Homo sapiens: one gene and its partners. The protein of the gene in region 3 interacts with the protein of the main gene of each other region in a biochemical or structural test. Each region holds a gene or a part of one and is shown on either strand. Other genes may lie near its edges.

Region 1 (3,650 bases), on a different chromosome or scaffold from region 3:
GCAGGAGGAGGCACAGCAGGGATGGGGAGGGATTTGCTGCTCTGCACCTGGAAGGCCCCAGAATGCTCTGGCTACTTCTCTCCCACCTTTGGCCCTACTCTCCGCTCCCTCTTGCCCTGCTGGCCCCACCCATAGCCTCCTCTGTGTCCCTTACATCCATGCCTCCCACCCTGTGCACACTTGGAACCCAGGTCAGGCACAGACACAGGCTCACACATACCTCCCCCACCCTGATGCGGTCATTGCTCAATTTTTGCAGGTTCAGCTCGGTGTGCAGAATGGCGGGCAGCTCAGCCTGGGCGAGCAGGTCCTGCAGGTCATAAGATCCTTGCAGCACCAGTTGGGGCATGGTCAGGTGGATGGTCCTGGGGAGATGATGCACAGTTAGGAAGGCTCCAGGCCACACAGTGAGGGCTCTCCCAGAGGCCAGGCAGGCTTATGCTCCTTGCACCCAACCCTGACGACAGGGATGTTTGCTCCCCCCATCACCCAACTAAGTCATCCTCCCCCTTGGGGAAAATTTCAGCAAAACCTACAATAAAAATCCTTCATGTCATTTGCAATACTATGTGAGGGACATAGAAGATTTACCGATGAGGACCTAGGAATGGTTGTCCTTTGGTGCATTCTGTTTTTAGGTTGGCTGCATTGAAGGTGTGTTACTTGGGTAATTTTTAAATGCTATTCTCTGAAATAATGCACTGTGTCTTACTACTGCCACAGCAGTGTTCTTGATGACATGACACCCATGAAAAGGAGAGAGGCAGGAGGGTACAGTGTCAACCTCGTGCTGGACACGTTGCTATGTCAACTCGATTGATCTTCGTATAGAGCCTCTTCCATCTTTTGGCATCCTTCAGAGCCCATGGACATTTCCAGTGATGTATCAAGCACTTATAAGAGCTGACAGTACACCCATGTTTACAGGGTACACTGCACTATTCACAGCAGCTCAAAGGTGGAAGCAACCCACGTGTCCATCGATGGATGAGTGGATACACAAAAGGTGGTAACCACATGCAATGGAATATTATTCAGCCTTCAAAAGGAAGGACATTCTGACATGTGCTACAACATGGGTGAACCTCGAGGACATCGTGGTGGTTGCCGGGGCCAAGGGGAAGGGGAAATGGAGAGTTAGTGTTTCAGCAGGACAGAGCTTCAGTTTGGGAAGTTGAGAAGATAAATGGAGATGGACGGGGGTGATGGCTGCACAACAGTGTGAATGGGCCTAGTACCACTGAACTGTGCACTCGAAAATGGTTACGATGGCAAATTTTGTTACGTATATTTTACCATCACAATTTTTAAAACATAAAAAACACCCAGAGTTGATGTCAAGCCATCGTGTCACTCAATGCCTGCCTCTGGGAGCAGATTTCCAGGCCTCGATGATCTGGGGTGATGTGTAGTTTGAGTCCAGGGCTCTGTGGAAAGGAATTGCAGCAGGAAAGAGGAGCTAACAACACCTATCCCCACCCAGCCGCCAGCCGCCAGCAAGGGCGTTCTGGAGTCAAGGGACGCTCCCTGAGAAGGCCCCACCCCCGCTCACGCGAAGTCCGAACCCTCCTGGCAAGTCAGTTCCAAGAAGCTCTTGGATGTCACAGGTGTGCTGTGTGTCAGGTGTGGGACCAAAATGGTCCTCTCTCAGAGGGCGGATTGCAATGTTTTCTCCCCCTCCAAAACTACCAGGCAAGTGTAAGTGTAGAAAAAGCATTCTTCCTCTCCTCCTTTACCTTGCCTGCACTTGAAAGACAGACACTAACTGGAGAGCTGGGTGCTGGCTGGATAGAGGACTGGTAGACAGACACACAGGCCGCCTGCCCAGCCCCGTGCCACCGCGGCCCTGCCCTGCTCTGCACCCAAGGCTCAGCTCAGGTGTGTCTACTCCCCACCCCGCCCCCAGCCTGGGCAGGACAGTGTGGCTCCCACATTCCAGGGGAGACCGGGAGGCTCCTACCGGGGAGATAGTTTCTTCATCCAGTTGAGGGAGTTTTGCTGGAAAGTGAGACCCTCCACCTTGTCCAGGTCAGAGGCATAGTGAGGCTGGATCAGCAGCAGGCAGGCGCTCTCAGTGAAGGGCACTTGAGTCACCGAGAAGTTGTCCTGGATGTCACTCCAGTGCTGGAAGGTGCCCATGCCAGAGAGCATGGGAACAGACACTGAGGTGCTGTTGTCCACCCAGAACTCCTGGGGCTCGGCCAGCAGGGAGAAGCCCTTCATCTTCCCTGAAATCCAGACAGGAGACAGGGAGGGAAGAGTCACCCAAGACAGGGGCAGGAATGAGGGCTGGCAGACACCAAAGGCCCAGATCCTGCCCCTCGCCCTGCCTCAGCCTCCTTCCTTGGCCCCCCCCAGGCCACTCTGCATTCTCCTGGCCACAGGACCGCAAGTGTGGCTCAAATATTTCTCCTGTAAAATGCAGCCATTTGAGTTCACTGAGGCAGCCCTAACCGCCACCTGCAAGACACACAACATGCCAGGCACCAAACCGGGGGTTTTGCATCTGTCACCTTAAGGGACATAAGCCACTGGTACCTGCCAGGTCAACTCAAACCTAGAACTGTCCTGACCCAAAGGCTGTGGTTTGACACACTCACTTTTTAAAAAATTTAAGAGATGTTATTTTTTAGAGTGACTTTAGGTTCACAGCAAAATCGAGCAGAAAGTACAGAAAGTTCCCATATAACTCTTGTCCCCCACTACACAGCCTCCCCCGTGATCAACATCTCACACCAGCGTGGCCCATTTGTTGCAACTGACGAACCTACACTGACACGTCCTCAGCACTCAAAGTTGATAGTTTTCTTTGAGTCTCCCTCCTGGTGTTTTACATTCTGTAGGTTTGGACGCACGTAGAATGACATGTGGCCACCACCGCACTATCCCACCACTCCTAGAGGCCCCTGCTCATACTCACTTTTTAATCCATGTCTAGCCCCAGCCATGGCAGAGCCCACCAGCTGTCCTGTGGCCCCCACCCTCCCCCATCACAGTCATAGAATACAGAGTGGGCCACGCAGGCCCCGGAAACGAGGGCTCCATTCCTCAGCAGCCCTTGCTACTGGGGAGACTCACACAACCTCGTTGTGATGAATGGATTTGCACACTGGGCCTTGGGGGCAGGGGTGAGCCCTCTGTTTCCCCTCCTGCTCACAGGGCCGTGCAGATGACAGAGAACTCGGGAGAGCCCGTTGTGGGAGAAGGACACAAATTTGTGTGTGACGCAGTTACCTGGGGTCTTTCCATGACAGCAGCCCACCCTCTGCCTCGACCTTACACTAGCACATCCCTGCCCTCGGCTGTCCTCCCACTCATCCTGAAAGGCCTATTCTGCGGTTGTTCTTAGGAGAATAGGGTGAAGTTGTGTATAAGTTTGTCACAGAACAGTCCCCTGGGCACGTGGCACTTGGGAGTCTGAGTAGAGATGGTTCAGAAACAGTGAGGTCTCCCTTTGTACTGAATTGGAGGTCCCAGCATGAAAGTAGGGCAGCTGGGAGGACAGAACTGGCAGGCAGGAGCTGGGCATGGCTGTGCCTCCCCTGGGTCCGGGTCTCGTAAGAAGGCAGTGGCAGACCTGGCATATTTCTCGTCCTCAGTCCTCGGAGCACTCAGTCTCGGAAGGGCATGTGAGCGGGAAACTGCAGGGT
Region 2 (3,650 bases), on a different chromosome or scaffold from region 3:
TAAAGGAGGGAGAAGGGCAAGCTTGTCTGTGCTAAAGAAACCCTTCGCCCATGATAAGGGTGGGGGCCAAGACCCAGTCCTGCCAGGCACGAAAGTCTGGCCACTGGGGAGGGGAGGAGCTCTTGGCAGCTTTTCTTTTGCTGCTTGGCAGGACCACCCTCTCAGCCTCTGCTCTCCGATCCCTGGTCAACTCTAGCTCTCTCTGGGCTCCGCAGCAGAGATGTGTATTGGCACAGAGTGTGTGCGTGCAGGGTTGAGGAAATACTCTTACCCCGATTTCTGTACCCTGGAGCATGTGTGCCCCTGGGATCCCTAGTGTGGAAGCCCAGACCAGACTCCAACCAAGGAGTGGGCAGTGGGCTTGGTCTCCTCTGGTCCTTCCTCCCACAGGTGGGTGGAATCACGGTGACACAGATGTTTGGAGAGGTCACGGAGATGCCCGCCTTACCCTTCATGCTGGCCGAGTTTGATGGGGTTGTGGGCATGGGCTTCATTGAACAGGCCATTGGCAGGGTCACCCCTATCTTCGACAACATCATCTCCCAAGGGGTGCTAAAAGAGGACGTCTTCTCTTTCTACTACAACAGGTGGGGACTGGGACTCCAAGGGCTGAGGTGGGGGGACAGGAGGGGAGAAGAGATGGGGAGTGGAAGGAGAGTCTGGGCCAGAATTGTAAAGTGTTTGTAATTAGGTGACAGCCAATCAATATCTAGAGCTGTACTAGCCAATATGGAAGGCACTATTGAAATTTAAATTAATTAAATACAGTTAAGCATCAATTAAGCATTCAACTGGTGGCTCTTAGTTGTACTAGCCACACGTCAAATGCCTGGCAGCCACGGTGGCTAGTAACTACAGTCTTATGACAGTGCAGATAGAGAATATTCCCAGCATGACAGGACATTCTAATAGACAGCGCCACTCTGGAGCAAGAGGAGATGCAAGGTGGGGGCGATGGTAAATAAGGGATTACTGTGACCTGTAGCCCTGCCTGTTAGGGCCATGGCTCCTCCCACACAGAGACAGCCAACTTCAGTCATCCATTAGATCCTTCATTCGTTTGTTTGCTCACTCATCAGTTCAGTAAATGCTATGTGCCAAGCACTGTGGTAGGCTCTGGGGGTGCAGCAGTGAACACAGTGAACAAGGCAGAATCTGTACTCCCCTACCCACATAGAGCTTACAGGCTAACAGGGAAGACAAGACATATTCCAACATAAAGAGTGTCACAGGCAGGCAGCAAGTGTGGTGCTGAAAACCATGGATGCTTTTCAATTCTAGGCTGAGCTTATATGCAGCTCAGCCAGCCTTGGGGAAGCTCTTGAGCAGGGTTGGGCTCTACTCCAAACTGCTGGGCTTAGAAAGATGGCATGAGTTGGAGACAAGAGAGCTGGAGGCAAAAGGGGCTGGGTGCAGTGGCTCATGCCTGTAATCCCAGCACTTTGGGAGGCCAAGGCGAGAGGATCGCATGAGCCCAGGAGTTAAGGCTTCAGTGAGCAGTGATTGTGCCACTGCACTCCAGCTAAGGCAACAGAGTGAGATCCAGTCTCAAAAAAAAAAAAAAAAAAAAAAAAGTCACAAGGGTAAGAACATGAGGCCAGTGGCAAAAAGAATAGAGGAGAGGATCAGAGTTCAGAGAAATCTCACAGTAAAATGGAGAGGAGTCTCCGGTTTGGTGATAGAAAGTGAGGCCTTGAGAAAAGGCCAATTGGCGGCTCTGCATTCAGGGGTGGTCTTTAGAAGAACTGTTTTAGAGGAAGTGGGGGCAAGGCCAGATGGCAAGAAGTTAAGAGGTGGACGACGTGGGTGTCAGGAAGTGGAGGTCATGAGATGTAGGCTGCCCTGGGACATTCAACAGGGAAGGGAATGGGGGGTGGCGTGGGGGGTGAGATCCAGAAGCAGAAGAGGAAGGGTGGGTGTTTTTAAATGCTAGAGGATGCTCGAGTGATGCCTGTAGGTGGAGGAAGAAGCCAATGGAAAGAAAGAGATTAAAAATGTGGAAAGAAGAGGAGCTAAATGGGGGCACTGGAGTTTGGAGGCCTTGAAAGAGATGAGGTTCCAGCAGACAGGAAGAAGCCAGGTTTTGCAGAGGAGAGGGCTGGCCTCTTCTTTTATCTTGGGATGGGAAGGAGGGAACATCCAGAGAGATACTGAAGTGTTGAGAGACAGGCAGGAGGGAATTTGTGCTAGCATATACACATACATTCCGAATTTATAAAAACACAAGTAGTTTGCAGTTGCACAAAATAACATATGCACACCTACACACCCATGCACACATGTGCATGTGTGAATTCTAGTATGAATTCTGGAAAAACACATCACACACACAGGCATGCCCTGGAGACTAGGCCTACAGTAGTCCCTGAGCCAAGTGCAGTGAGGAGGAAAGGAAGGTGAGGGGAATCAGCTCCAGACGGGGCACCAGGAGCCTGGCTCCAGTCCCCCACTTGTTCACTCATGGACTGGGTAACTTCAGGCAAGTGACTTCGCCTCTTGGTGACTCCATTGCCTGAAGGGCAAAGAGAGTACATAACACCCACCCTGCCAAACAGCAGGGCTGATGAGGCTGGCATGAAATGAAGCTTCCTTTCTGCTGTCTCTCTTTCTCTGCAGAGATTCCGAGTAAGGAGACAAAACCCCCACATGGCTGTGACCTTCCAGTACTCCCCGAGCACCTGACCTAGAATTACACACGCCACCGGCCCAAAACTCACATCAGCAAGCCCAGCCTCCGCTAGATGCCGAAGTTCTCTGTCTCTCCTTCCTGCTCTCTCCATGCCACCTGCCCACCCCATACCCAATAGCCTCCCCAGGGTCCCCTCCCATGCACCTGCTCAATCAGCAGCAACCCAAGAGTGAGGGGTGTCCATTTGTGTCTTGTTCACATCCACTCACTGTCCTTGTACCTGCTCCTTTTCTGTGACCTCTCTGGGGATGCTTTTTGGGGGAACAGCTGGACTACCCTGGAACAACCTCTGGTTGGTCTTGGGGAGGGGAAGAAAGGCAGAGAAGCAGTATGTTCTGCATGCTTCCCAACGACAGCTCCGAGCCTGGCTGTCTGTCCCACATTCCTCTGCTCTAGAGCCCTCTGTCCTCCCCTGCACCCTTGTGCAACCTTCCCCAATTGCCTGAGTTGCTGGGTCCTGGAGGTTATGGGTTTCCAAGAGCTTCTGATCTTTCCTTTAGGAATTCCCAATCGCTGGGAGGACAGATTGTGCTGGGAGGCAGCGACCCCCAGCATTACGAAGGGAATTTCCACTATATCAACCTCATCAAGACTGGTGTCTGGCAGATTCAAATGAAGGGGTCAGAAATCCTCAACCCTCCCCGGGCTCCAAAAAATGCTGCCGTCACTGGGGTTGGGGAGGGTGGGGAAGGACTGCATTACCATCCTGCCCTCTTTCCAAATGCAGCCACTTCTTAAGCACAGCCACCATTTGCTCTCTGCCTGCTCTGTCCAGGCTGGGGAACAGAGAAGGGAGGGGCCTGGGGAGAAGTGGTGGAGGGTGACAGTACCTTCCCTCCTCTACTCACTGCCTCAACAGGCCACCAGCGTGGCCTCCACCCACCCACCCACACTCAGGAAGGACATGCAGCCTGGAGGTGCCCCATCAGCCTTCTGTCTGTCTGTCTGTCTGTCTGTCTGA
Region 3 (3,650 bases):
TTGCACTCCAGCCTGAGCAACAAGAGCAAAACTCCGTCTCAAAAAAAAAAAAAAAAAAATCATCAACAGAATGGAATTGTGGTATATCCCTACAAGCAGAATATGTAACAGTAAAATGACTAAACTACAGCTACATTTGTCAGCCTGAGTGAATCTTAAAAAGAATACTGAACAAAGAACACAGAAAAATACATGTAGTATGATTCAATTTATATAAAATTCAAATACAGGCAAAACCAAACAACACTGTTTAAGAACAAATACATATGCAGTCAATCTGTAAAGAAAAGCAAGGGATTAACATGATATCCAGGACAGCAGTTACCTCTGGATGAGGGAGGGTAGAGGGAGAAAATAGGGAGCTTCAAAGAAGCAAGCATTCTCTTAAGCTATTGATATGGTTTGGCTCTGTGTCCCCACCCAAATCTCATCTCGATTTGTAATCCCCACGTGTCGAGAGAGGGACCTGGTGGGAGGTGATTGGATCATGGGGGCAGTTTCCCCCATACTGTTCTCATGATACTGAGTTCTCATGAGCTCTGATGGTTTAAAAGTGTGCCACTTTCTCTCTCTTTTGCCACCTTGTGAAGAAGGTGCCTGCCTCCCCTTCCCCTTCCTCCATGATTGTAAGTTTCCTAAGGCCTCCCCAGCCATGTGGAACTGTGAATCAATCAAACCTGTTTCCTTTATAAATTACCCAGTGTCAGGTAGCTCTTTATAGCCATATGAAAACGGAGCTATACAGTGTTATTATTTTTATTATTTAAATAACTAGTATTAAATATGTTATATACTTATGTATGTATGATCCACTTAACACTTTTTTTTAAAATACAGAGCTGTGTAAAAACATTGTTTGGGAAACTGAATTCATTCTGACAAAGGCACTGTTTGGGAAATATCATTCATTCTGGCTAGAGAATTTTAAAAGTAGGAACACAGCAGGAGATGAAGCTAGAAGCAGGGAAGCTACAGAAAATCTGACATGAGCCTCTGGGCAATAAGGAGCCATTGACAAGCTTTAGGCAGAAAGTGAGTGACATGATCAGGTTTGTCTTAAAAAGATAACATTAAAATTAAAAATTAGCTGAGTGTGGTGGCTCAAGCCTATAGAACTGGCTACTCAGGAGGCTCAGACAGGTGGATCACCTGAGCCCAGGAGTTTGAGGCTACAGTGAGCTATGATTGCGCCACTGCACTCCGGCCTGGGACAGGGCGAGACCCTGTCTCAAAAAAAGAAAAGAAAAAAGATAACTTTGATGACAATGTGTAGGATGGATTTGGGAGGAGCCAGCTGGGAAGCAGAGAGACAGATGAGTTCAGACAAGTTAGGAGGCGGCAGTCAAATGAGGTGGGAGAAATGGGGGCAGGGTGCCTGGCAGTGAGGATGAGAACGAAAATGTAACCGAGATCTATTTGTCCCTACAGCCCCAGCACCTGGAATGTTGTGAGTACTCAGTAAATGTTCCTTAAACTCCTGTCTCCTTAAACTAATGGAAGAGAGTGATTTCAAATGTAGGAGAGAATGGGTACACAGGCATGCATATTTACCTGCGGGGAGCTCAGAGCTGAGGCAAACGTTAAAGGATTTCACGCCCATGAAGACCTCTTTGTTTCTTTCCTTTTTTTTTTTTTGATAAACATGTTCTTTTTCCTACCCATTTTAAGTGTACAAGTCAAGGAATTTTAGTGGTTTCATAGTTATCACCACAATCTAATTCTAGAACATTTCTATCACCCTAAAAAGAAATCTCATAGGCCGGGCATGGTAGCTTACACCTGTAATCCCAGCACTTTGGGAGGCTGAGGTGAGCAAATCACTTGAGGCCAGGAGTTCAAGACCAGCCTGGCCAACATGGTAAAACCCCATCTCTACTAAAAGTACAAAAATTAGCCGGGTGTGGTGGTGCATGCCTGTGATTCCAGCTACTCAGGAGGCTGAGGCAGGAGAATCACTTGAATCTGGGAGGTGGAGGCTGCAGTGAGTTGAGATTGTGCCACTGCACTCCAGTCTGGGTGACAGAGTAAGATCCTATCTCCAAAAAATCCAAAAAAAAAAAAAAAAAAAAAAAAAAAAGAATTCTCTGGGAGGCATCCCCACTCTCAACACATGTGCTGACCACCCAGAGCCCAGGTGCCTTTCTGTTTCCCTGTGCTGGTGGGCAAAAATTTCCAGTCTACCCTCTCACTGAGGGCACAGCTCTCTCGGGGTCCCCAGCTTTATCTGGAGTTGTCCATTCCCATCCCCCACACACAAGGCACCAAAGGACTCTTGGTGACCCAGCTGGCAAATATCCTTAGGGCGGCCTGCTTACCACATTCGGTTTTTTTTTTTTTTTTTGAGATGGAGTCTCACTGTGTCACCCAGGCTGGAGTACAGTGGCACAATCTCAGCTCACTGCAACCTCCGCCTCCCGGGTTCAAGCGATTTGTCTGCCTCAGACTCCTAAGTAGCTGGGACTACAGGCGTGCGCCACCACGCCCGGCTGATTTTTTGTGTTTTTAGTAGAGACGGAGTTTCACCATGTTGGCCAGGCTGGTCTCGAACTCCTAACCTTGTGATCCACCCACCTCGGCCTCCCAAAGTGCTGGGATTACAGGTGTGAGCCACCGCACCCGGCCTCCTCTTCTTTATTTACTCTGTAAGAGAATTTCCCTTTCTTGCGAGCTGAACTATGTATTTTTATTTTTGTAATTTTTTTTTTATTTGAGACGGAGTCTTGCTGTGTCTCCCAGGCTAGAGTGCAGTGGTGCAATCTTGGCTCACTGCAACCTCTGCCTCCCGGGTACAAGCAATTCTCCTGCCTCAGCCTTCCAAGTAGCTGGGATTACAGGTGCCCGCTACCACACCAGGCTAATTTTTGTATTTTTAGTAGAGACGGGGTTTCACCATGTTGCCCAGGCTGGTCTAGAACTCCTGGCCTCAGGTGTTCCGCCCGCCTCAACCTCCCAAAGTGCTGGGATTACAGGCGTGAGCCACCACACCCAGCCCAAACTATGTACTTTTTAAAAGATCTTTATTTTTATCTAGCATTTCTAGACGTTTTATGGTGGGAAATCTTGGGTGGTTGTCTAGACTGACATGCTGTCTGAAACAAAGGTCCTTCCATCCCCAATTTAATTTAGAAAGAAACAATCTCAAACCAGTAATCGCTAGACTATCTCAAACAGGCACTGGCTTCGACCTTCCGACTCCAAGTCCCACACTGACTTCAGTAAAACTGAGCAGGGTGAGGGCTGCAAATGGGTCTGAAGCGGAGGTGTATGTAATTGAGTGGATATCTATCTGCTGCAAGTGATACAGCCAGCCCTAAGCAATGTTCTCAGACGTAGGATGTTAGGGAGCATCTACACTACTCTTTCCCATCACCCTCCCTAGGTTCTGCTGCAGCTGTAAGTATATATGTATGTATGTAAATGTGCACGTACATACACATAAACAGATATGTATTTTACCATGGCCAGCAACCATGGTAATGCTTAACCCTGACCCTCTAAATGCTTAAAATCAAAGCAAGATCCATACCCAAAAAAACTGTTAAGTAAATCAAAATCATAAAGAGGTGCACACAGAGGATCTCAGTAAGTGAGGGACTACGCCACAAAGACAATGTGCCTGCTAGAAAAGCAGAGCCCATAGGATGTGGGCA

Evidence for each region.
Region 1: of the proteins of ATP6AP2 (region 3) and AGT, one has a biochemical effect on the other in vitro, tested with the Homo sapiens proteins (one study listed by BioGRID).
Region 2: the proteins of ATP6AP2 (region 3) and REN form a complex in vitro, tested with the Homo sapiens proteins (one study listed by BioGRID).

What each region holds. Positions count from the first base shown.
Region 1 is NC_000001.11:230,703,973-230,707,622, forward strand, and holds part of AGT (angiotensinogen precursor), read right to left. Parts: intron 2,229-3,650; coding exon 1,961-2,228; intron 366-1,960; coding exon 221-365; intron 1-220. UniProt on the Homo sapiens protein: Essential component of the renin-angiotensin system (RAS), a potent regulator of blood pressure, body fluid and electrolyte homeostasis.
Region 2 is NC_000001.11:204,156,336-204,159,985, reverse strand, and holds part of REN (renin preproprotein), read left to right. Parts: intron 1-390; coding exon 391-587; intron 588-2,616; coding exon 2,617-2,625; intron 2,626-3,189; coding exon 3,190-3,309; intron 3,310-3,650. UniProt on the Homo sapiens protein: Renin is a highly specific endopeptidase, whose only known function is to generate angiotensin I from angiotensinogen in the plasma, initiating a cascade of reactions that produce an elevation of blood pressure and increased sodium retention by the kidney.
Region 3 is NC_000023.11:40,601,341-40,604,990, reverse strand, and holds part of ATP6AP2 (renin receptor precursor), read right to left. Parts: intron 1-3,650. UniProt on the Homo sapiens protein: Multifunctional protein which functions as a renin, prorenin cellular receptor and is involved in the assembly of the lysosomal proton-transporting V-type ATPase (V-ATPase) and the acidification of the endo-lysosomal system.